7 linked regions of the Homo sapiens genome follow. The protein of the gene in region 1 purifies or fractionates together with the protein of each later gene. This does not show direct contact. Each region holds a gene or a part of one and is shown in the gene's direction. Other genes may lie near its edges. The genes, in order: SOS1, EPS15L1, CRKL, EPS8L2, PTPN11, SNX9 and SHC1.

What was found.
Region 2: the proteins of SOS1 (region 1) and EPS15L1 purify together in Homo sapiens (affinity purification with mass spectrometry, with the first as the bait; one large-scale study listed by BioGRID). This does not show direct contact.
Region 3: the proteins of SOS1 (region 1) and CRKL purify together in Homo sapiens (affinity purification with mass spectrometry; 3 studies listed by BioGRID and IntAct, with this or other methods). This does not show direct contact.
Region 4: the proteins of SOS1 (region 1) and EPS8L2 purify together in Homo sapiens (affinity purification with western blotting; 2 studies listed by BioGRID, with this or other methods). This does not show direct contact.
Region 5: the proteins of SOS1 (region 1) and PTPN11 purify together in Homo sapiens (affinity purification with western blotting; 4 studies listed by BioGRID and IntAct, with this or other methods). This does not show direct contact.
Region 6: the proteins of SOS1 (region 1) and SNX9 purify together in Homo sapiens (co-immunoprecipitation; one study listed by IntAct). This does not show direct contact.
Region 7: the proteins of SOS1 (region 1) and SHC1 purify together in Homo sapiens (affinity purification with western blotting; 14 studies listed by BioGRID and IntAct, with this or other methods). This does not show direct contact.

What each region holds. Positions count from the first base shown.
Region 1 is NC_000002.12:38,985,052-38,988,551, reverse strand, and holds part of SOS1 (son of sevenless homolog 1), read left to right. Parts: intron 1-960; coding exon 961-1,079; intron 1,080-2,236; coding exon 2,237-2,728; 3' UTR 2,729-3,188; coding exon of another isoform or gene 3,189-3,242; 3' UTR 3,243-3,500.
Region 2 is NC_000019.10:16,465,471-16,468,970, reverse strand, and holds part of EPS15L1 (epidermal growth factor receptor substrate 15-like 1), read left to right. Parts: intron 1-3,500.
Region 3 is NC_000022.11:20,923,907-20,927,406, forward strand, and holds part of CRKL (crk-like protein), read left to right. Parts: intron 1-3,500. UniProt on the Homo sapiens protein: May mediate the transduction of intracellular signals.
Region 4 is NC_000011.10:723,231-725,728, forward strand, and holds part of EPS8L2 (epidermal growth factor receptor kinase substrate 8-like protein 2), read left to right. Parts: intron 1-10; coding exon 11-123; intron 124-1,493; coding exon 1,494-1,599; intron 1,600-2,497; coding exon 2,498-2,498. UniProt on the Homo sapiens protein: Stimulates guanine exchange activity of SOS1. May play a role in membrane ruffling and remodeling of the actin cytoskeleton. In the cochlea, is required for stereocilia maintenance in adult hair cells.
Region 5 is NC_000012.12:112,417,472-112,421,746, forward strand, and holds the start of PTPN11 (tyrosine-protein phosphatase non-receptor type 11), read left to right. Parts: upstream 1-1,475; 5' UTR 1,476-1,640; coding exon 1,641-1,654; intron 1,655-4,275. UniProt on the Homo sapiens protein: Acts downstream of various receptor and cytoplasmic protein tyrosine kinases to participate in the signal transduction from the cell surface to the nucleus. Positively regulates MAPK signal transduction pathway. Dephosphorylates GAB1, ARHGAP35 and EGFR.
Region 6 is NC_000006.12:157,826,246-157,829,745, forward strand, and holds part of SNX9 (sorting nexin-9), read left to right. Parts: intron 1-3,500. UniProt on the Homo sapiens protein: Involved in endocytosis and intracellular vesicle trafficking, both during interphase and at the end of mitosis. Required for efficient progress through mitosis and cytokinesis. Required for normal formation of the cleavage furrow at the end of mitosis.
Region 7 is NC_000001.11:154,964,773-154,967,747, reverse strand, and holds part of SHC1 (SHC-transforming protein 1), read left to right. Parts: coding exon 1-77; intron 78-1,203; coding exon of another isoform or gene 1,204-1,230; coding exon 1,231-1,429; intron 1,430-1,516; coding exon 1,517-1,586; intron 1,587-1,667; coding exon 1,668-1,802; intron 1,803-1,966; coding exon 1,967-2,205; coding exon of another isoform or gene 2,206-2,379; exon of another isoform or gene 2,380-2,462; intron 2,463-2,975. UniProt on the Homo sapiens protein: Signaling adapter that couples activated growth factor receptors to signaling pathways. Participates in a signaling cascade initiated by activated KIT and KITLG/SCF.

The sequences.
Region 1 (3,500 bases):
AGTTCTATATTTTATAACATGTGACAAAATAAAAAGCTTAATGCTTAAAGGGAAAAAAAACTGCCAACTATAATTTTGAATGATGGTTTAAGTATTTTTTTCACATCTTTTTTTATAGTAGGTATAAACAACTAACTTAAGTGTTGTTTTCCAAAGTGTATTTATATGCCTACCTTATGTTCTTGTTACCATAAATGTCTGTAAGAGAGGTTCTAATTAGTAGCTTTACTTACTTTTTTTGTGCCAGTCCACCAACTTATTCTTAAATCAGATTCACTAGATTTTAGTGTAATTTCTGTTTTCATGGTCAGGGCTGCCTCCGTTGTCTTGAATAGTGCCATCACCGTTAAAATTTTTGGATTTAGAGTATAATGAGCCTCTTTTTGCTTACAGGCAAAGGGGAGCCTATAACTAAACAAAATGAGGAGAGGCCCCTCACCTAGACACTATGATTCTTTCCCTTGCATCCTTTGAGAGAAATGCTAGGGAGAGACATTGGAGAGAGTGGTTAAGAGCACACACTCTACTCCCAGGGACTATCCAGTAAGGTGGGGAAGTTCTATAAATTCTAATAAAGTCAAAGAAAAAAATGAACCCATTATAGAATCTAAAAATTACCATTCCAAAGATTTTCAGTAGCTCACTGTCTCCCAGACATCTGAGAATCAGACTCAATTAAAAATTTCAATAATAGAGTAACCATGGGAATGTTATTTTGTTCAGGCAAAATAACAGAATACCTTAGGCAGCTTTTTTCTAAATATTCTGCTAAAAAATGTCTGCATGCTTTTATGGCAGTTTGCTTTAATGAAATACTATTCGGTATTGGTTTATTGAACAGCTTTTGGTATTTCTACACATTACTTTTAATTATAAGCAATTTCCAGCTAAGACTTTTCAAGGTAAATAAATGAAATAAAATTCCTGTGGACTTTTTCTTAAAAATTTAACATCCCACAGGATCTGCTTCTGTATCATCTATAAGTTTAACCAAAGGCACTGATGAAGTGCCTGTCCCTCCTCCTGTTCCTCCACGAAGACGACCAGAATCTGCCCCAGCAGAATCTTCACCATCTAAGGTAAAGTAAGAAATCTTGTTGTGTAGAAATTGGAATCATTACAGTTCATTATAATAAACGGCTGTCTAGTTTAGTTCTCACTAGGATAAGTTAACATTTCAGAGTATACAGGCTTAATAGTTTAAACAAGGATTACATATAGATTTAGCATGCAGTAATGTTTCTTTCTTCTGAAGGTAGTTTTTTGGTATGCATTCAAGACCCTTGTAAACCTAAGGCTATGGTTATTTTCAGAAAAAAACAAAAGTTTTAATCTGTAAAGTAAGAGGAATTTGGTTTCAAGCAGTTCTTTAAAAGCATACAGAGAAAGTCCTGAAGCTTTGTATGAAGGCACATTATAAGTCAAACTGTATTTTGACATATGCTAAAATTTACTTATCTGAGCCCTTAATAGTAAATCTGACATACTTTTAAATGGAGTTTTCATGAAAATTCTGGGTTTGGAAGAGACCCCAAAGGCTCAAAATAGCTATTATTTCTACTTATTTAATTTTGTTTTTTTCTTTTTGGCCAGCTGTTAAACTTAATTCATTAGTTCTTAAGCTGTCCAGAGTGCAGAGCACCAGGATAAGTCAAGACAAGACACTCTTTGTAGAACTTCATGAATGTTAACATAGTTAACTTAAAATTATAAAATAGGTACTTTATGCTAAATTAGAAATGATCTTAGATTGAGTGATAAGCTAAGCAAGCAGTAGCAAACAAAATTTTGAGGAAAAAAATTTAAGTAAAAACTACGGCAAACTTTTTTTTTCTATGAATTGACAGAACCTCCCATTTAAAACATATGCCAGCCTTGGCAACAGAGCAAGACCTTGACTCTACAAAAAATGAAAAAAATTAGCCAGGCATGGTGGTACATGCCAGTGGTCCTTGCTGCTTGGGATGCTGAGGTCGGGGGATCACTTGAGCCCAGGAAGTTGAGGCTACAGTGAGCCATGATTGCACCACTGCACTCCAGTCTGGGCAATAGAGCAAGGCATTGTCTCAAAAAAAAAAATTTTTTTTTAATTAAAAAGAAAACATATGGCAAAACTCCCTGTTCCACACTTAGCATCCTGCCAATAGCATGTTTGAAAACCCCAACTTAATTCTTATAGTCATGATACTTCATAAATTTATTAATAAATGTGTATTTTATTCTTTTCATTTGTTAGATTATGTCTAAGCATTTGGACAGTCCCCCAGCCATTCCTCCTAGGCAACCCACATCAAAAGCCTATTCACCACGATATTCAATATCAGACCGGACCTCTATCTCAGACCCTCCTGAAAGCCCTCCCTTATTACCACCACGAGAACCTGTGAGGACACCTGATGTTTTCTCAAGCTCACCACTACATCTCCAACCTCCCCCTTTGGGCAAAAAAAGTGACCATGGCAATGCCTTCTTCCCAAACAGCCCTTCCCCCTTTACACCACCTCCTCCTCAAACACCTTCTCCTCACGGCACAAGAAGGCATCTGCCATCACCACCATTGACACAAGAAGTGGACCTTCATTCCATTGCTGGGCCGCCTGTTCCTCCACGACAAAGCACTTCTCAACATATCCCTAAACTCCCTCCAAAAACTTACAAAAGGGAGCACACACACCCATCCATGCACAGAGATGGACCACCACTGTTGGAGAATGCCCATTCTTCCTGAGTTCCTCTGTACTGGGATGTATATTTTCCTAGCCCCAAATCCATTGCTGGCAATGGATGCACTGAATGTGCCAGCACTGAGGAGTTAAAATGAGAACTCCAAACACTAACGACTCTTCTTCAAGATGCAGTATAAGACAATGAATTTTAACCTAGATGTAATTATACAATGGAAATGGTATTCCAGTTTAGAATATGGAAAGACCGACCTAGAGGAATTGGACAACTGATTGCACCTGAAAATCATAAAGGGACTTTTTCTGGCCAATAGGCAGGAGTCCTCTTTTTGTGAAGTGATCTTTTGTGAAGTGATCATTAAAGGGATGGAAAACACAGTCTAGTGTCCAGCAGGCCCACATGACAGTTTTTGTAATTCAAATTATGCACTTTTAAAAAAAAAAACTTAAACAGGGATCTTAATATCTTCCTTTGTTTTCCTTTGCTTTACTCTTCTACTTTAGAATATTTTCTTAAAAATCACTCAAAGGACTGTGAGGAAAGGCTGTGGTACCTGACCTTGTTGAAATCAAGGCCCGGCACTGTACTACAGGCCTGTTTACAGATTATTACGGTGAACTGAATGGGTACCGAGGCTTCACCAAAGAGGTACTTTTTTGTTGTTGTTGTTGTTTTAGGAATAATTGTACCAATTTTAAGAGCATTCCCCCCACCTGTCCCCACACACCCAAACAAAATGTGGTGGTGTTGCCTTCAAAAAAGAGAAGTTTTGTGTCATTAACATGACAGAAGAACTTTTTAAAAAAAAATAACTG
Region 2 (3,500 bases), on another chromosome or scaffold:
ATAGCTCACTGCAACCTCAAACTCCTGGGCTCAAGCAATTCTCCCACCTTGGCCTCTCAAGTAGCTGGGACTACAGGAGCGCAGCACCAATCATACCCAGCTAATTAAACAATTTTTTTTTTGAAGAGATGAAGTCTTGCTATGCTGCCTAGGCAGGTCTTAAACCCCTAGCCTCAAGCAATCCTTCTATCTCAGCCTCCTAAAGTATTGGAATTACGGTGTCAGCCACTGCATCTGGCTAGGATTCATCTTCTAAAACATATTCCCCTGTTCCAAAAACCTTTCACAGCTCCCATTCCCCTTCCTCCAAAAGAACTCAGTTTATGGCTGGGCGCTGTGGCTCATGCCTATAATCCCAGCACTTTAGGAGGCTGAGGTGGATGGATTGCTTGAGGCCAGGAGCTCGAGACCAGCCTGGCCAACATAGCAAAACCCTGTCTGTACTAAAAATACAAAAGTTAGCCAGGCATAGTGGCAAACGCCTATAATCCCAGCAACTTGGGAGGCTGAGGCACAAGAATCGCTTGAAACCAGGCGGCGGAGGTTGCAGTGAGCTGAGATCGCGCCACTGCACCCCAGCCTGGGCAACAGGGTGAGACTCAGTCTCAAAAAAAGTCAGCTTTGATGACCTTAGTAAGCCCTGAATCGACTCCACCTAACCTTGCTGGGTCCCTTTCCTGCACTTCTGGCTCTTGGCAACACTTTCTAGCCTCAGCATCCTTAGCTGTGTTGCTCCGGTTGCTAGAACATCACTGTGAGCTCCTGCCGTATGCTGCCTGCCCTGAAGGACGGTCTTTGAGGCCTCCCCTGTGTTGTCCTCCCTTAGCCCCACCCGAATGAGAGTTCTCTCCCTTGTACCTTCCGTGGGTCCCTTTTGTGACCGCTGTACCTAGGAAGCGCGTGGTAACTGGGCTCAGTGATGAGGAGAGACTGCCCTGGGCCCAAAGAGCTACACCTTCCTCCTTTCCCCCTTGTTATGTGTTCTTCATCCAGGAGCTTTTGCTGTATTTCAGTAGGTGCCTCCATTCTAGGAGGCTTTTATTCCCCTTTTACAAGTGAGGAAACCAAGACCCACAGAAATAGAGTAACTTGCTGAAGTCTCATAGTTGGTGGGCGCAGAGCTGAGGTCACACCTGCGTCCTCCTGCCGCAGAGCCCTGCTGTTCCAGATGGCCTGCTGGGCACCTCTCCCAGAGCAGCACCCGGCCAGTGTGTCTGGAATGAATGCTGAGTGGCTCGGACACTTACTTGTCCTCTTGTCCCTTGTTTCTTTTCTTCCTCTGAAATAAGTGCTAGTCTATCTTAGTAGAATGCTAATGGCAATGCAGTCTAAATTGATGAGAACGAAGTTTTAGAGTAAAATCCACTCCTGAAAGATCCAGAATTCCCTGACTGTCACTTATTGACCTGCACTGGCCTGTTTTTTTTTTGTTTTTGTTGTTGTTGTTGTTTTTTCGACTAAATAGATTCTCCCTGGGCAAGACCCCTCCACCTCCATTCTGAACTTTAAAACAACTTTCCAGGCCGGGTGCAGTGGCTGACGCCTGTAATCCTAGCACTTTGGGAGGCTGAGGCAGGTGGATCACCTGAGGTCAGGAGTTTGAGACCAGCCTGGCCAACATGGTGAAACCTCATCTCTACTAAAAATACAAAACATTAGCCTGGCGTCCTGGCGGACGCCTGTAATCCCGGCCACTCGGGACCCTGAGGCAGGAGAATCACTTGAACCCAGGAGGCGGAGGTTGCAGTGAGCCAAGATCACTCCACTGCACACTCCAGCCTGGGCAACAAAGTGACACTACGTCTCAAAAAAAAAAAAAAGAAAAGAAAAGCAGGCACCATCAGGTGCAGTGGTGCCTGCTTTTCAATGTTTAGGTCCTTAGATGTTTGTTTGGATTCCCAGATATTCCTTCACTGCCCTCAGTCCTGCAAATACTTTCTGTACCTTAGTTTTCTCATCTGCAGAATGGTACTGTGGACTCGCTTGACCTGCTTTGTCACAGTAGAGTGTCAGGACCCTGCCGTGTGACGCATGTGCTCTCAGTGCTTTCCTTTTTTTTTTTTTTTTGAGACAGAGTTTCACTCTTGTCACCCAGGATGGAGTGCAATGGCGCTGTCTTGGCTCACTGCAACCTCTGCCTCCTGGATTCAAGCGATTCTCCTGTCTCAGCCTCCTGAGTAGCTGGGATTACAGGCGCCCACTACCACACCCAGCTAATTTTTGTATTTTTAGTAGAGATGGAGTTTCACTATGTTGCCTAGGCTGGTCTCGAACTCCTGACCTCAAGTGATCTGTCTGCCTCAGCCTCCCAAAGTGCTGGGATTACAGGCAGGAGGCACCGCGCCTGGCCCTCATGCCTGCCTTTTGTAGATCACACTGTTCGTTCAGTGAGTATTTATTTGGCATCTTCTTTTTGCTGGACACTTTCTGGGCAGTGGATGGAACAGTGAATCTGAAGGCAGTGCCGCCTCACGGGGCTGACATCGTTGGGAGGGGCCCAGATATAAAGAAATGAGCCCAATGTGTAGTGCATTCGGTGGGGATTGATGCTGTGAGATGAGTAGAGCAGGGCAGGTTCCGATCTGATGATGGAGGTCAGGAAAGGTCTCACCACCAGGCTGGAAGGACTGAGTAAAGAAAACATCATAGATTGCCTGGTTCATCCTCCCGGTCACTCTGGCCAGTATTATCTTCAGTGTATAGGGGCAAGAGGGGCAGATCACTGGAGGCCAGGAAGGGCAGATCACTGGAGGTCGAGAGTTCAAGACCAGCCTGGCCAACATGCTGAAACCCTGTCTCTACTAAAATACAAAAATTAGCCAGGCGTGGTGGCACATGCCTGTAGTCCCAGCTCCTCAGGAGGCTGAGGCAGGAGAATTGCTTGGACCTGAGAGGTGGAGGTTGCAGTGAGCCGAGATTGCACCACTGTACTCCAGCCTGGGTGACAGAGCAAGACTCTGTCTCAAAAAAAAAAAAAAAAAAAATAGATAAAGTGAGGCCAGAGATTGTTACGTCCCTTGCCCAAGTTTGTACCCAGTGAGCTCAGGCAGACATGGCTTTTCTGACACAGGTTCAGGCCTCTTCATTGCACCATAGTTTCTTGTCTTGGAAAGTTATTTTTTTGTTTGTTTGTTTTTAAGTTTATGACATCTCCTAACCTCATTTGTTTTTATACCTAGTTATTAGATATCATGTAGTCTGAGTTTTTATTTTATTACTTTAATCTCATCTCATTAAAAGGTAGAGAGGGACATGGAAAGGCCTGCTTATTGTCTTCCTTTTTCCTTTAGAGACAGGCTCTTGCTCTATTGCCTACGCTGGAGTACAGTGGTGCAATCAAAGCTCATTGCAGCCTCGACTCTTGGCCTCAAGTGAGCCTCCCACCTCAGCCTCTCAAGGAACTGAGACTACAGGCATGCAACACCACACCTGGCTAATTTTTAATTTTTTTGTAGAGACAGGATCTTGCTATGTTGCCCAGGCTGGTTTCGAACTCCTGA
Region 3 (3,500 bases), on another chromosome or scaffold:
CTGTGCTCGGTGGCTCGTGCCTGTAATCCCAGCACTTCGGGAGGTTAAGGCAGGAGGATCGCTAGATCCCAGGAGTTTGAGACCAGCCCTGGCAAGATAGTGAGACCCCATTCCCACAAAAAATTAAAAAATTAGCTGAGCATGGTGTCATGCGCCTTTAAGTCCCAGCTACTTGGGAGGCTGAAGTGGAAAGATTGCTTGAGCATGGGAGGTCGAGGCTACAGTGAGCTATGATCATGCCACTGCACTTCAGCCTGGGCAACAGAGCCAGACCTTGTCTCAAAAAATGAATGAATGAATGAATGTAAGTTGTATATATTTAATATATTTAATCTCCATGCATGGTGAAACAGCTGTGGGAGAACTGAGAAAGGGTGCTTAGTCTAACCTGAGAGCCCAGAAGAGGAGCCTCACACACCTGTGAAGTAGAAGCCAATCCCTGAAGGGACAGGAGGAAACAAGAAGCATGGTTGTGCCTCCTCTTTACATCCCCTGTTCTAATTATTTAAGAACTCAAATCTAGACTTCCATAATTTGGAATGGGGAAAGGATTGCCAGTAATTTTAATCAGCATAGAATTCAACTCTGTGAATAAACCCCTTTGCGTTTCTCCTGACCAGTAGTTAAAATCATGTGAATTTGATTCAGAGAAAAATACAAGAACATGGCCAGGTGCAGTGGCTCACGCCTGTAATCCCAGCACTTTGGGAGGCCAAGGTGGGTGGATTGCCTGAGTGCAGGAGTTTGAGACCAGCCTGGGCAACACGGTGAAACCCTGTCTCTACTAAAATACAAAAAATTAGCTGGGCATGGCGGCGTGTGCCTAAGAGGCTAAAGGCAGGAGAATCACTTGAACCTGGGGGGTGGAAGTTAAAGTGAGTCGAGGTCGTGCAGCTGGACTCCATCCTGGGCGACAGAGTGAGACTCTCTCCAAAAAAACAAAAAACAAGAACACTGTCATGCTGAGAATGGAATCTTGTCCAATTAAGAGTTGTGTTCCCAGCCGGATGTGGTGGCTCACGCCTGTAATCCCAGCACTGTGGGAGGCTTAGGCGGGCGGATCATGAGGTCAGGAGATCAAGACCATCCTGGCCAACATAGTGAAACCCCGTCTCTACTAAAAATACAAAAACTAGCTGGGCGTGGTGGCATGCATCTGTAGTCCCAGCTACTCCGGAGGTTGAGACAGGAGAATCGCTTGAACCTGGGAGGCAGAGGTTGCACTGAGCCAAGATCACACCACTGCACTCCAGCCTGCCAACAGAGCGAGACTCCGTCTCAAAAAAAAAAAAAAAAAAAGAGTTGTGTTCCCATGGAAAGTACTAGTAGCCATTCGATTTGTGACTTTTAAAACTCAAATCCACAGAATTGTGACCTAAATTTTTCCTTTTGATCTGAATGATTAGACTAGATTTCTGAGGGTCTTTAAGATTAAAATATTTTAATTCTGGGCCGGGCGTGGTGGCTCACGACTGTAATCCCAGCACTTTGGGAGGTCTGGCAGGTCGGGAGTTCGAGACTGAACCTGGGAGGCAGAGATGACAGTGAGCCGAGATTGCGCCAGCGCCACTGCACTCCAGTCTGGTCAACAGAGCGAGACTTCGTCTCGGAAAACAAAAAACAAACAAACAAAAAACATTATTTTAATTCTTTCAGATAAGTAAAAGGGGGCACAGCCTATTAGTTGGGAGTTCAGATTAACTTGAGTTGAATCTGAGCTAAAATCATAACAAGTTGGGTGGGGCCACCAGGCACATAGCAACTCACCTGGAATGAACGTGACAAGAACAGTGGAAGAGGATGAGAAGAGGCTTTGAAGGTGCACACTCAACGGTATTCGAATTCTGTCACACCAGTTTTGTGACAGTATTAAACCAGAGTTAGGTAATTTGAATACCTGAGCTTTTGTGCTTTCAGAAACAAAAAAGGAGGGAAATAGGAAAGGGAAGTTCTTTGATATATAGAGGCCTACAATATACCAAAGCTCACTGCTAGACTCTTGGAATCTAATGGAAGTAAACCATGTTTTTGTTTTTGATTTTTGTCTTTGAGAAGCTTTGGTCTATTGAAAAAATTAGAATGCCATGACAGCTTAAAAGCAAAGGCAATCAACTGTACCTAAGAGGTGGGGAGAGGCTTGAAAGAGGAGATGCTCTTCAACTGATTCTTTAAGGATGAGAACAAGTATACGAGGTAGAAGAGGTGGTGGTAGAAGAGATGGTGGCAGTGCTTGCTGGTAAAGACACAGTTATAATTAATGTAGATGATGGGCAGGAACCTAGGAAGGAAAGATAAAGCCAACTTGTAAAGGGCCTCCTCAGCCTTGTAAATGAGCTTAACAATGGGAGCCATCTAAAGTTTTTAAAAAGAGAACTGTCAGATTTTAAAAGGAGAACTGATGAGTTTTACTTTTGAGAAACTGCTCTGGGTGGGGAAAGATCTGAAGGACTAATTCTCTGTTACTGGAGAGGGACCCTGAGAAGCTGAGCCAAGATCAAATGCCATAGGAATGTAAAGTGGCACATAGAAGGTGAGGGGAGAGGTATGATGACTTCAGAGAGGATTGAGTGGTGCCTTTGAGACAAGAGAAAGGGATTAGGGTGGGTGCGTGATTCTTTTCAACAGGAAGAATCTTTCTTTGAGGTACCTGCTGGAAGCCAGGTGGTATTTAGCAATCTGATGGGTTTGTTATTGAGAAGAGAGGTAAGGGCTGAATACATATAGATTTGGGAATCGCAGCTTAGATGGGATCACCCAGAATGAGGAGGCAGAACAGGAATAAGTAGAGAAAGAGAAGCTGCGGAAGGAGAGGCAGCCACAAGCATAGGAGGAGGAGCCATTAGTGATGGCCTGAAAGCCCAGGGACAGAAGGGAGGGGACCTGGGCATTAAATGCTGGTCAGTGATAAAGAATGGTGGTTACTGGCTGGACATGGTGGCTCACGCCTGTAATCCTAGCACCTTGGGAGGCGGAGGCAGGTGGATTGCCTGAGCTCATGCGTTCGAGACCAGCCTGGCCAACACAGTGAAACCCTGTCTCTACTAAAATATAAAAAATTAGCCAGGCATGGTGGCGTGCGCCTATAGTCCCAGCTACTCGGGAGGCTGAGGCAGGAGAATGGCTTGAACCTGGGAGGCAGAGATTGCAGTGAGCCAAGATCGCACCACTGCACTCCAGCTTGGGTGACAGAGCAAGACTCCGTCTCAAAAAAAAAAAAAAAAAAAAAAAAAGAATGGTGGTTAAAGCAGTTTCACTAGAGAAGTACTTAGCTCATCTTGGAATTGAATTTTTTTTTTTTTTTTTTGAGACAGTGTCGCTCTGTCGCCCAGGCTGAAGTGCAGTGGCATGATCTCGGTTCACTGCAGTCTCCACCTCCCGGGTTCAAGTGATTCTCCTGCCTCAGTCTCCTGAGTAGCTGCGATTACAGGCGCCCACCACCATGCCCGGCTAATTTTTGTATTTTTAGTAGAGATGGGGTTTCACCATATTGGACCAGGCTG
Region 4 (2,498 bases), on another chromosome or scaffold:
TTCCCCACAGGTGAGTCCAGTGAGCCGACAGTCCATAAGAAACTCCCAGAAGCACAGCCCCACTTCAGAGCCCACCCCCCCGGGGGATGCCCTACCACCAGTCAGCTCCCCACATACTCACAGGTAAGCCCCCCTCAAAGTGAGGGAGCATGAAAGTGAAACCCTTCAGAACCTACAGTCTCTAAAAACATATGGGTACGCTGCCACCAGGTGGTGGCAAGTGCATTGTTCAAGTGGTTTAAAATACTTTTCCAGATTTGAAGCGGTTTTCATTTCAACTGCATGATATATAATTAAAGGAAACATTTCAAAAGTCATGCACAAATTCTCTACCCTAATATATCAGCTTTTTCTGTGCATCCACATGTATGTTTTAGAACCAAGGTTAGAAACTACTAAACCACTGAACTTGAGTGGTTTCACCAAACACTGGCACCCTGTTGGGGCTGTTGGGACTGATTCAGGCCCAACCTCTGGTAGAGCCAAAAGAGGAGACTGGGGTTCTGGGCTAGTGAAGCCTCTCCCCTCCTCCCACCCCCAGCCCCACCTGTTTCCAAAGAGGACAAAGAACAAGCCTATGGCACTAGGGGAGTCCCGTCTTTCCTTGCCTCTCCTCTTCCCTTCTGTGCTCATTCCTGGTCCAATCTGCATGGGAAGCCCCTGACCCTCCCACACCCCAGGATTCAATTTTGGGGTAAAGAGGGGCCAGCAATCCATCTTCTAAGCAAGCATGGCCTCCCCTCACCCACAGTGTCAGCCTGGCTCCCGTGGTCCCTGGCCTAGGACCACACTTAAAAACATTTCCACCCTTTGACTTCAGCTCCTGGTCTGTCCACCCTGGCCATGTCCTGACAGTCCATGGCCACTTCATTTCCCTGAGCACCTGGACACGGGAGCTGCCCTGATGACCAGGGCCACACTGACCAGGATGGACGGCCTGGCCAGGTGACAGCCACAGGCCTGCTACATGCCAAAGCCAGGACCCCTCAGCCAGGGCCAGCCCCCCCGCGCTTTTGAGGTGCAGGTCCCACCCCACAGAGAGGAGCTTGAGACCCGTCCTCCACTGGACCATTTGGGCTGTGTTCAGTCCTCAGAGGGGCCACGGCTCTGAAGACATGCTGGCCCTCACTGGCCAGCTGCGGGGAGCTGTGACCCTGGCGTTTCCCAGGAACGCCCCTGGCTCTGGTTCCCCTGGGGTGCCGGACTGGAGACCCCTGAGGTGGCCTGGGATGGGCCAGCCTTGCTGTACCACAGGCCCCTGCGCCACGCCCACCTCCTGCCTGCCCCGCCTCCACGCAGGGCCCCAAAGCTCTGGGGCTGTCACAGTTTCCATTCCGGGCTGACGCTGCCTGCAGCCTCTCTCCACGGTGACCTCCAGAACAGAAAAGAGGCAGCCAGTCGTGCACCTGGGAAGCTGCTGCCCCCCAGCCACTGCCCAGGTCTCAGAGGAGACCCCCACCAGACTGGGCCTCAGCCCCTCCTGTTCCTCACAGGGGCTACCAGCCAACACCAGCCATGGCCAAGTACGTCAAGATCCTGTATGACTTCACAGCCCGAAATGCCAACGAGCTATCGGTGCTCAAGGATGAGGTCCTAGAGGTGAGGGGCTGGAGGACGGGGTCCAAGAGGGGGAAACAGGGCAGGGCTTCAAGGGAGGGGCTACCAGGGGAGGTGGGGAGCGGTCTAGGGCCAGGCTGGGTGATGCCAGGACGGGGCACAGCTGCTGGCCCCTTTCTCCAGGGTCCCCGCCCTTGGACTCTGATCAGGATCCCCAGCCTGTTGGAGGGGCCTTCCCATCTTGGGGCTCCCCAAAGGCATGCAGAGACCCCTGTGCCAGGCTGGGGGGAGCATCTGCACCACGTGGACTCAGCGGGGGCCTGTCATTCACACCCACCCAGGAGCCCCCACATCTGCACTGGCCGCATCTGCCAGCCGGAATCCAGGCCACCCACTGGGGGACAGAAAGTGGAGCAGGCTAGGGGGGAGTGGGCCACATCCACAGCCTGGCTCGGCGGCTCACGCCTGTAACCGCAGCACTGGGAGGCCAAGGCGGGAGGATCCCTTTAGCCCACGAGTTCGAGACAAGCCTGGGCAACACCTCAAAACCCCATCTCTACAAAAAACATAAAAATTATCTGGATGTGGTGGTGTGTGCCTGTGGTCCCAGCTACTCTGGAGGCTGAGGTGGGGGGATCGCCTGAACCCAGGAGGTCGAGGCTGCAGTGGGCAGTGATTGCACCACTGCATTCCAGCCTGGGCGGCAGAGTGAGACCCTGTCTCCGAGAAAAAAAGGGTCCCCCAGACTCCTTGAGGCAGGGTGGGGGAGGAGCAGCCCAGCGAGGGATGGAGGGGTGGAAACAGGGGTGCGGAGAGAATGGAGCGAAGCGGGGCTCCGGGAGACCCTAGGGCGCTCCCGACCTCTGTAAAGCGGCGCCAGCGGGTGGTCCCAGCCCCGCAGAGCCTGGGTGTGGGGAGGGGCTGACGGCGCGCCCCGCAGG
Region 5 (4,275 bases), on another chromosome or scaffold:
TTTGACTGGCTTCTCTGTTTCTGGCCTTGCTCTCTTGCTCGAGCTTCACAGAGTGTCCAAAGTAATACTTCCGTACCACCCGGCCCGGCTTTTTTTTTTTTTTTTTTTTTTTTTTTTAAGAGACATGGTCGCACCATGTTGCCCAGGCTGGTCTTGAACTCCTAGGCTCAAGCAATCCTCCTGCCTCAGCCTCCCAAAGTTCTGGGATGAAGGCGTGAGCCACCATACCTGGCCTGAGTGCAGTGGCGCGATCTCGGCTTTCAGCAGCCTCGACCTTCCAGGCTCAAGCAATCCTCTCACCTCAGCCTCCCGAGTAGCTGGGACTACAGGCGCGCGCCACCACGCCCGGCTAATTTTTGTATTTTTTGTAGAGATGGGATTTCACTATTTTGCCCGGGCTGGTTCCCAACTCCTGGACTCAAGCGATTCGCCCGCCTCAGCCTCCCAAAGGGAAGTGCTGGGATTTCAGGCGTGTGCCACCGCTCCCACCCCAAAGTAGTATTTATTGTAATTATTATTATTATTTTGAGACGGAGTCTCGCTCTATTGCCAGGCTGGAGTGCAGTGGCGCGATCTCGGCTCAATGCAACCTCTGCCTCCCGGGTTCAAGCGATTCTCCTGCTTCAGACTCCCAAGCAGCTGGGACTACAGGCGCCCCCCACCACGCCAGGCTAATTCTTGAATTTTTAGTGGAGACGGGGTTTCACCATGTTGGCCAGGATGGTCTCGATCTCTTGACCTCGTGATCCGCCCACCTCGGCCTCCCAAAGTGCTGGGATTACAGGCGTGAGCCACCGCGCCCAGCCTATTATTATTTTTTTAGGCAGTGTCTTGCCCTGTCGCTCAGGGTGTAGTGCAGTGGCGTGATCACGACTCACTGCAGCCCCGACTTCTCGGGCTTAAGTTATCTTCCCGCCGCAGCCTCCACGCCCGGTTAGTTTTTTGCATTTTTTGTAGAGATGAGGTCTTGCTTTTTTGCCCAGGCTGGCCTCGAACTCCTTGGCTTAAGCGAACCTCTTGCCGCAGCCTCCCAAAGTGTTGGGATTACGGGCGTGAACCACCGCGCCCAGCCTACTATCTTTATCTTACAGAAAGAAAAGAATGGAGGAAACCGAGGCTCGGAGACAGTAGGTAATTTCCCCAAGGTTCCACAGCTAATGAGTGGAGCGGCGATTTGTGGAACGAAATGAATGAAATCGATGTGGCAGCGGGCCCGGACGGGTCGGTGGCGTAGACGCGGAGCGCGCAGCTCACACCTGGCGGCCGCGGTTTCCAGGAGGAAGCAAGGATGCTTTGGACACTGTGCGTGGCGCCTCCGCGGAGCCCCCGCGCTGCCATTCCCGGCCGTCGCTCGGTCCTCCGCTGACGGGAAGCAGGAAGTGGCGGCGGGCGTCGCGAGCGGTGACATCACGGGGGCGACGGCGGCGAAGGGCGGGGGCGGAGGAGGAGCGAGCCGGGCCGGGGGGCAGCTGCACAGTCTCCGGGATCCCCAGGCCTGGAGGGGGGTCTGTGCGCGGCCGGCTGGCTCTGCCCCGCGTCCGGTCCCGAGCGGGCCTCCCTCGGGCCAGCCCGATGTGACCGAGCCCAGCGGAGCCTGAGCAAGGAGCGGGTCCGTCGCGGAGCCGGAGGGCGGGAGGAACATGACATCGCGGAGGTGAGGAGCCCCGAGGGGCCCGGCGCGGGCCTCGGCCCGGCCACCGCCGCGTTCGGTTAGCCCCGTCCGGAAGGGGGCGCCCCGGCCGGGCTTCGGGCTCCCGCCCCGGGTCGGGGTTGGGGGCCGGTTCCCTCCTCGTCCCCTCGCCCTCCAGGGGCCGGGGGCCGGCCCCACCGCGCCCCCACCCCTCGGGTCCCCATTCATTTCCTGCCTCCCCGAGTTCCGGCTGCGGCAGCCCCGGGGATGCCCGTCAGGCCCGGGGCAGGTAGAGCCGCCGAGGGAACCACGGGTGCCAGCGGCCAGGCTCAGCGCCGCATTCCTGACCCATTGCCTCATGAGAATTGCCTCATGGTGATTCCGAAATAACCCTGCTCACTTGGGGAGGCTCCTTGGGACACGAGAGGGGAGTTGCGCGGGGCCGGGCCCCCAGTGGTCTAGTCGTTCTGGCTCACTGTGCCACTTTCGTGCATTTGGGGACTTCACGCAGGACCCCTGACCCTTTTATATGCCTCTTTGTGTCTTCTTTTCCTCCTACCCCTCACGTGCCAGAAATGGAAAAACTGACTGTATCTGCAGCCACTAGAAGTATTTCCTTCCTCTGCGATCTTCGCTTTGGGAGATGGAAAGGAAGGGAGCCGCATCTCGTTATTTAATCCTTCACTGCAACCTTAACAGTCAGGTCACTTTACTGGTACCCGTTTTATGGATGAGGAAACCGAGGCCCAGAAGCAACATGCTAGTAAATGACAAGATTTGAAACTTAGGAGGATTAGTGAGTTAATGAGATCCTTTGAAAGGTCAGGGTAATACTACTACTAATAGCTAACATTTGCTTAGTTCTGACCACAGCCCTATCAGATGGCTACTATTATCCCCATTGTAAAGATGAGTAAACCGAGTTTCAGAGGTTAAGTAAATTGCCTAACCTCACAGCTAGTAGGTGGTGGAGACAGAATCCCTACTTTTAATCACTATGTTGCTTCTATTATTTTGTAACTATTGCTAACCATTTGTAAGCCTTAATTTTGTTGTCAAACAGTAGTGTGACCTGTTGTTTTCAGATAGTGATCCTGCTATTTTGTATAGTCACTCTATATACCACTCACACTTAAGACCCATTGTCTATTCTTTTCCATGATTGTTCAATTATGGTCACTGTCTCAGACATTTAAAAAACGATTCAAGCTATTGAGGCTATTTGAATGAGATTTTCTTTTCTTTTTTTCTTTTTTTTTTTGGAGACGGAGGCTCACTCTGTTGCCCAGGCTGGAGTGCAGTGGCGCAATCTCGGCTCACCACAATCTCCGCCTCCTAGGTTCAAGCGATTCTCCTGCCTCAGCCTCCCAAGTAACTAGGACTACAGGCGCACCACTATGCCCGGCTAATTTTTGTATTTTTAGTAGAGACAGGGTTTCACTATGTTGGCCAGGCTGGTCTCAAACTCCTGACCTCGTGATCCGCCCGCCTTGGCCTCCCAAAGTGCTGGAATTACAGGCGTGAGCCACCGTACCCAGCCTGAATGAGATTTTTCAAAATATTAGGAATGTCTCCTCCAAACACACCTGGCATGTTATTCATACATGGATCTGGAATTTAAAAAGGGGAGAAAAAGAAAACTGAGAACTCGTAGGAAGTGAGTGACTTGGACAGGTCGGTTGGCAAGTGCTTACAGATCTGGGTAATATATAACTGCATTTCAACAGAACAGTGTATAGCCTCAAATGTTCTAATTCTTTAGGGAGCTTTTAAATAAACAGTTGTCTATTCTTTAATCTGTCAAATAGTCATTGAGCCTTTTGTTCCTGGTGTCTGCTCTTCCAGACAAGTAAGGATCTGCTGCTTTAGGAGACATCAGACGGGGCTGGGGGTTGGGAAAAGGTCTGGGTAGTAATAGACCCTACATTGTCCAGTTTGTTCATTTAGAAGCATAGAAGTGTGGGCATAGTCAAAGTAGCAAGTGGTAAAGATGACAGTTTGAAATGGAGTAATTCCTTCTCCCCTCCAGCCCTGGTATTATGCACCACCCAAAAAGCCGGGTTATGAACATAATACACATAATTTTGAATGATTCATTATTTTTTGGATTATAAGCCTGTTTTATTTGTTAACCAGCCTTAATGAGGTATAAATGACATGCAATTAATTGCATATATTTAAATGTACAATTTGATCAGTTTTGACATACATATACACTTGGGAAACCACCACCATAGTCAAGATAATGAACACATCTATCACCCCTGGTAATTTTGCCTTATGTTCTTTATAATCCTTCCTTTGTTCTTAGGCAGCCACTATTCTGCTTTCTGTCACTATGTATTAGTTTGCATTTCCTAGAATTTTATTTTTAAAAATTTTAAAATTGTTTGAATAGAGATGGGGTCTCACTGTGTTGCCCAGGGCAGTCTCAAACTCCTGGGTTCAAGTGATCCTCTCACCTTGGCCTCCTGAAGTGTTGGGATTATAGGCATGAGACACCCTGCCCAGCCCTAGAATTTTATTATTATTGTTATTATTGTGTTTTTTTGAGATAGGGTCTCACTTTGTTGCCCAGGCTGGAGTGCAGTGGTGCAATCACTGCAGCCTTGTTTTCCTAGGCTCAATCCATCCCCCCTCCTCAG
Region 6 (3,500 bases), on another chromosome or scaffold:
CCTAGCACTTTGGGAGGCCGAGGCGGGCGGATCACGAGGTCGGGAGATCGAGACCATCCTGGCTAACACGGTGAAACTCCATCTATACTAAAAATACAAAAAAAATTAGCTGGGCGTGGTGGCGGGCGCCTGTAGTCCCAGCTACTCGGGAGGCTGAGGCAGGAGAATAGCGTGAACCCGGGAGGCAGAACTTGCAGTGAGCCGATTTTGCGCCACTGCACTCCAGCCTGGGTGACAGAGTGAGACTCCATCTCAAGAAAAAAAAAAAAAAAAGGAAAGTTAATCAGTAACTGCACATTTTAAGGGGATTATCTATTTTCTATTTCTACTCCTTACTCAGTAGAGTGCTGCATTCAGTTTAAGTGTATACACTCACTCAGTGCAATCAAGTCTTGTTTTACAAATATTAATACAAAAGCTGCAGAGCATTTTAGTCTTGACCTTTATTGGAAGCCTCCAAAGGTTATATTTCGACCCAGCCAAAATATAACCTATTTATATTATAGGTTTTATATATATATGATATATAAATATATTATATTATATATATATATTATATTTTATATATAAATATATATTATATTTTATATATATATTATATTTTATATATAAATATATATTATAGTTTATATAATATATAAATATATATTATAGTTTATATAATATATAAAATATATTATAGTTTATATAATATATAAAATATATTATAGTTTATATAATATATACATATATATTATAGTTTATATAATATATACATATATATTATAGTTTATATAATATATACATATATATTATAGTTTATATAATATATAAACATATATTATAGTTTATATAATATATAAACATATATTATAGTTTATATAATATATACATATATATTATAGTTTATATAATATATACATATATATTATAGTTTATATAATATATAAACATATATTATAGTTTATATAATATATAAACATATATTATAGTTTATATAATATATAAACATATATTATAGTTTATATAATATATAAACATATATTATAGTTTATATAATATATAAACATATATTATAGTTTATATAATATATAAACATATATTATAGTTTATATAATATATAAACATATATTATAGTTTATATAATATATAAACATATATTATAGTTTATATAATATATAAACATATATTATAGTTTATATAATATATAAACATATATTATAGTTTATATAATATATAAACTTATAGTTTATATAATATATAAACTTATAGTTTATATAATATATAAACATATAGTTTATATAATATATAAACATATATTATATTATAGTTTATATAATATATAAATATATATTATATTATAGTTTATATATATATGAGATATATAAATATATAATACATTGTCAGTCATCCTGTTTTATTTAAAAGATCAAGTTCTGGAAAAGAAATGAAGAATTTTTTTTCAGTGTCTGTCAAAGGGGACATGAAGAAAATTGTTAGTGGAGGTTAATCCATATCTATATAATTTAGCTGTAATTTCTACGTCAAAGTTAACCTTCAGTCACTAATTTGGATCCTTTTGTGCTTACATAGTCACCTTTAGGCTAACTATAACAAGATTCTAGGAGTTCCTGATGCTTTTTTTTTTTTTTTAACTCTTCGGTTCCAATACCTAAAGTTATACACATGTGTTACACAGCTTGTCTGGTTAAATTAAGTGGGTATGGAATGTTAAAAATAATGGTAGGGAATAAATGAATTACTTAAGACTTGTTTATTCCATGCATAGATTAGTGAGAACAATTCAGAAGGCATACTTTGTAGCCCCTCCAGAGCAGAAACTTCTTTATTTGACGACTAGAATAGAAATATCTTTCTAACAGGTCTTAAGGATTAAAGTTGATTTTTATGGCTTTTAAAATGTTTGGAAAATGCTAACCATTTAACTTTGTATAACAGTAGTATTTTCTATGTGTCTTAAGTAGAGTGTGCAGTATTTGTATAGTCAAAGATAAGTTCTGTGACAGTAGAAAGATGAACAAGTCTCATTAAAGAAGGAATAGATTAGAAAGCATAAAAATGTTGCAGTTTTTCTACTGTGCCTTGTTTTTATATTGACCATCTGAAAATTAAATTATAGTTTTACTTTAATTGTCCACTTAAAACTTTGTAGCTTTGCAGTACTGCTGTTTCTTTTCTGGAATGCTGTTCTCCCTTGTCCTTCCCTAGGTACTTTGTTTTTAGATGTTAAGTTTTTATGATTATGATTATTATTATTTTTTTTTTGGAGACAGGGTCTCACTTTGTCATCCAGGCTGGAGTGCAGTGGCACGAACACAGCTCACGGCAGTCTCGACTTCCCTGGCTCAGGTGATCCTTCCACCTCAGTCTCCCAAGTAGCTGGGACTACAGGTGTGCACCACCATGCCCAGCTACTTTTTGTATTTTTTGTAGAGATGGGGTTTCACCATGTGTCCTGAACTGAGGTGATCCTTCCTCCTCAGCCCCGCAAAGTATTGGGATTACAGGTTTGAGACACTACGCCTGGCCACATATTAGGTCTTAATGCGTCTAAGCATCACTTCCCCGGGAAAGCCTTTCCTGATGTCCCCGCCCCTGTTTCAGGGTCACATTACACACCCCGACTGCCATTTTATATTTGTTTCTATAACTGATGGCTGGCTCCTTTGAATGCTGTCAGCCTCAAGAAGCTGAGACTGTTTGTGATCACTTTTGTATCTTCAATGACAAGTTTAAAAGAGCAAAAATATATTCTAGTGAGATAAGTGACTCGATTATTGAAGTAGAAAACTATTAATCCCCAGCTGTAAGCTTTTGTTCTTTTAATCATGTGTTTTAGTGTATTTGTTAAAAGTGTATACAGGTACAACACAAAATTTACATCTGCAGCTTAGGTATTGGCAATTATATTTTTTAAAACATAATCAATTTTACTAATGATTACATGAGAAATTGCCTGATGTTTTAAGGTAGTTGGAACAAGCTTCATATTTCTGAGACTTTAAAGAGTTGTCTTTAACCTACAAGTTGTCAGAATTGTCTTTAATTTCCAAATGTATTGGGTTTTTCTCTTTCTTGTTGGTGATTTCTAACTTGATTGCATTGTGATCAGGGAGCCTAATTAAAATCAATACTGTACCTGGAAATTTGTTGAGGCTAACTTTATTCCCAGCATACAGTCAGCTTTTATGTTTCACCTGTGCACAAAAAGAGTATACATATTATTGATGTGTGTGTCTATTCTGTATGCTCTATGTCCACTAGACTTACTGTGCTGTTTATATGTATATCCTTACTAATTGTGTTCCTCTATTTGATCTGTTGTATCTAACTGATCCTCTGTCTACTTGATGGTGATGCTAAAATGGTGAATTTAAAAATTTTCTCTACATTTACAATTAGTATTATTTTCTAGGTGAATTGAAGTTTTTATCATTATGAAGTGAACCTCTTTACCTCTGGTAATGCATTTTTTCTTAAAGACTATATTTCTAATGTTA
Region 7 (2,975 bases), on another chromosome or scaffold:
ACCATTGGCCAGGCCTTCGAGTTGCGCTTCAAACAATACCTCAGGAACCCACCCAAACTGGTCACCCCTCATGACAGGTGAGCAGGTGGGGAGAGTGTGGAGCAGCTCTTGGATTAGGATTAGGAAAGGAGGGCTGCTCTTCCTACACTTGAGTTGAGAGGTTCAGGGAGGGAATAACCTGTGTGCCTCTGCTTCCCACTTCCTGCTATTCTTCTGTTTCCTGTGGCCCAGGAGGAAAGACTTTTGAGGCCCTGCTTGCCGCAGGACCAGCTTTTCTTGTTTGCTCATGGTGGAGTTGTAGTCCGGGGCCTCCAAGTTACATCTCTCTCTGGCTAGGTGGGATTTTCTACTCCCATCCCTCTTTCTTGCTCATTTCTCTGCTTGGCATTATGTGTTTTCCTGCCTCTAGAAGCCATCAAGAATTTGGGTTTGGGAGGATATCTCTTTTCCCTGAGATTACAACCTTTCCCACCTCAGGCCTTGAGGGATAAGCAGTGGAGCCAGTAGGGATTGAATATTTAGGAGAGGTTAAAATATTCTGGAGCTGGAGTGCCTCCCCCGGCCCCCCACCCCCCTACATGGTGCTTCCCTTCCTTGTTGGGAGATAGCACAGAGATCAAGAGCAAGAGCATTACTTATTTGAGACAGTCTTGCTCTGTAGCCCAGGCTGGAGTTCAGTGGTACAATCACAGCTCACTGTAGCCTCCATATCCTGGGCTTGAGTGATCCTCCCACCTTAGCCTCCTGAGTAGCTGGGGCTACAGGTGCATGCCACCACACCTGGCTGAGTAGTAGTATTTTTATTCTGGTAGAGATAAGGTCTCGCTATGTTGTCCTGGCTGGTCTTGAACTCCTAGGCTCAAACAACCCTCCCTCCTTGGCCTCTGAAAGTGTTGGGATTATAGGCGTGAGCCATTGCACCTGGCCAAGGGGATGAGCTTTAAAGTCAAACCTGAATTTAAATCTGAGCTCGGCCGCCTTTTAGTTGTGAGACCTTGGGCAGATCTTTTCACCTCTGACCCTCATTTTCCTCATCTGTAAAAGTGGGGAAGGAAACAATACCTACCTTACGGGGTTGCCAGGAGAATGAAATGATTATGTATATAAAACACTCAGCCTCAGGCTTAATCCATAGTAAATACCCAATAGATGGCTGCTGTTCTATTCTGTCCTTCCCTCCTCCTGCCCACCACACATTTACAGCCACAGCTTCACTGTCCTGTCCCTCAGGATGGCTGGCTTTGATGGCTCAGCATGGGATGAGGAGGAGGAAGAGCCACCTGACCATCAGTACTATAATGACTTCCCGGGGAAGGAACCCCCCTTGGGGGGGGTGGTAGACATGAGGCTTCGGGAAGGAGCCGCTCCAGGGGCTGCTCGACCCACTGCACCCAATGCCCAGACCCCCAGCCACTTGGGAGCTACATTGGTAAGTTGCTTGGATGGAGGCGGGCTGGGGCTAGGGTGGGAGTGGTTGGTTAGGGCTTCTGGTCTCACCTTATTTTTATCCCTGCAGCCTGTAGGACAGCCTGTTGGGGGAGATCCAGAAGTCCGCAAACAGATGCCACCTCCACCACCCTGTCCAGGTATGAAGGGAGCCGAGATAGGCAGAGCTGGGGAGTGTTGGAGGCAGGGCTGGGATCACTGTAGAGCCTCCCTTTCCTCAGCAGGCAGAGAGCTTTTTGATGATCCCTCCTATGTCAACGTCCAGAACCTAGACAAGGCCCGGCAAGCAGTGGGTGGTGCTGGGCCCCCCAATCCTGCTATCAATGGCAGTGCACCCCGGGACCTGTTTGACATGAGTGAGTGCTCGTCTCTCTCCTCTCTGCATCCCCACCTTTCTACTTGGTTCTGGCCCTTCTCCTGCCTATCTGCTCTTTCCTTCCTGACTTCCCTTCCCTGAAGTCTGGGTCTTGGGTGTGTGTTGTGCCTGCTACTTCCCCTCACCCTCCCTCTATACTTCCAGAGCCCTTCGAAGATGCTCTTCGCGTGCCTCCACCTCCCCAGTCGGTGTCCATGGCTGAGCAGCTCCGAGGGGAGCCCTGGTTCCATGGGAAGCTGAGCCGGCGGGAGGCTGAGGCACTGCTGCAGCTCAATGGGGACTTCCTGGTACGGGAGAGCACGACCACACCTGGCCAGTATGTGCTCACTGGCTTGCAGAGTGGGCAGCCTAAGCATTTGCTACTGGTGGACCCTGAGGGTGTGGTGAGTGTGGCAGAGGTGTGGGTGAGGGGTGGCAAAAAGGAAGGTACAGTACCCTACAGTGTATCCCTCTTCCTTCCCTCATTGCTTTGTAGACATTCCCGCTGGGCAGCTGTCTATGGGCCTCTCTTGCTCTTTAAAGTGTCTGGCATCTTCCTCCAGAGGCTCATCCCTTAGCCTGAACTATGTTCTTTATAGTCCTGGCACAGGGCCAGGCGTGGTGGCTCACACCTGTAATCCCAGCGCTTTGGGAGGCTGAGGCAGGTGAATCACCTGAGGTCAGGAGTTCGAGACCAGCCTGACCAATATGGTGAAACCCTGTCTCTACTAAAAATACAAAAATTAGCCGGGTGTGGTGGCAGGCACCTGTAGTCCCAGCTACTCAGGAGGCTGAGGCAGGAGAATTGCTTGAATCTGGGATGCAGAGGTTGCAATGAGCTGAGATCACACCACTGCACTCCAGCCTGGGTGACAGAGTGAGACTCTGTCTGAAAAAACAAAACAAAACAAATACAGTCCTGGCCCGTCCTCAAATCCCCAAGCCTTAAGCTTATCAGAGCTAGAAGGCAGTCATCTCATCTGTGCCCCTCTTTTGACAAATAAGGAAACCACCCTGAAGAGGTTGTGATGCCCAATGTCAGATGGTTAGAGGCTAGACACTGCAAGTTTCCTTTTGTAAGAAGATCCAAGGGCTTCTCCAGCTCCCCAGACTCAGGACTCAGACCACTGTGCTTTCTCTTATCTGCACTGCCTCACTGTTCTTCAAAACTTTC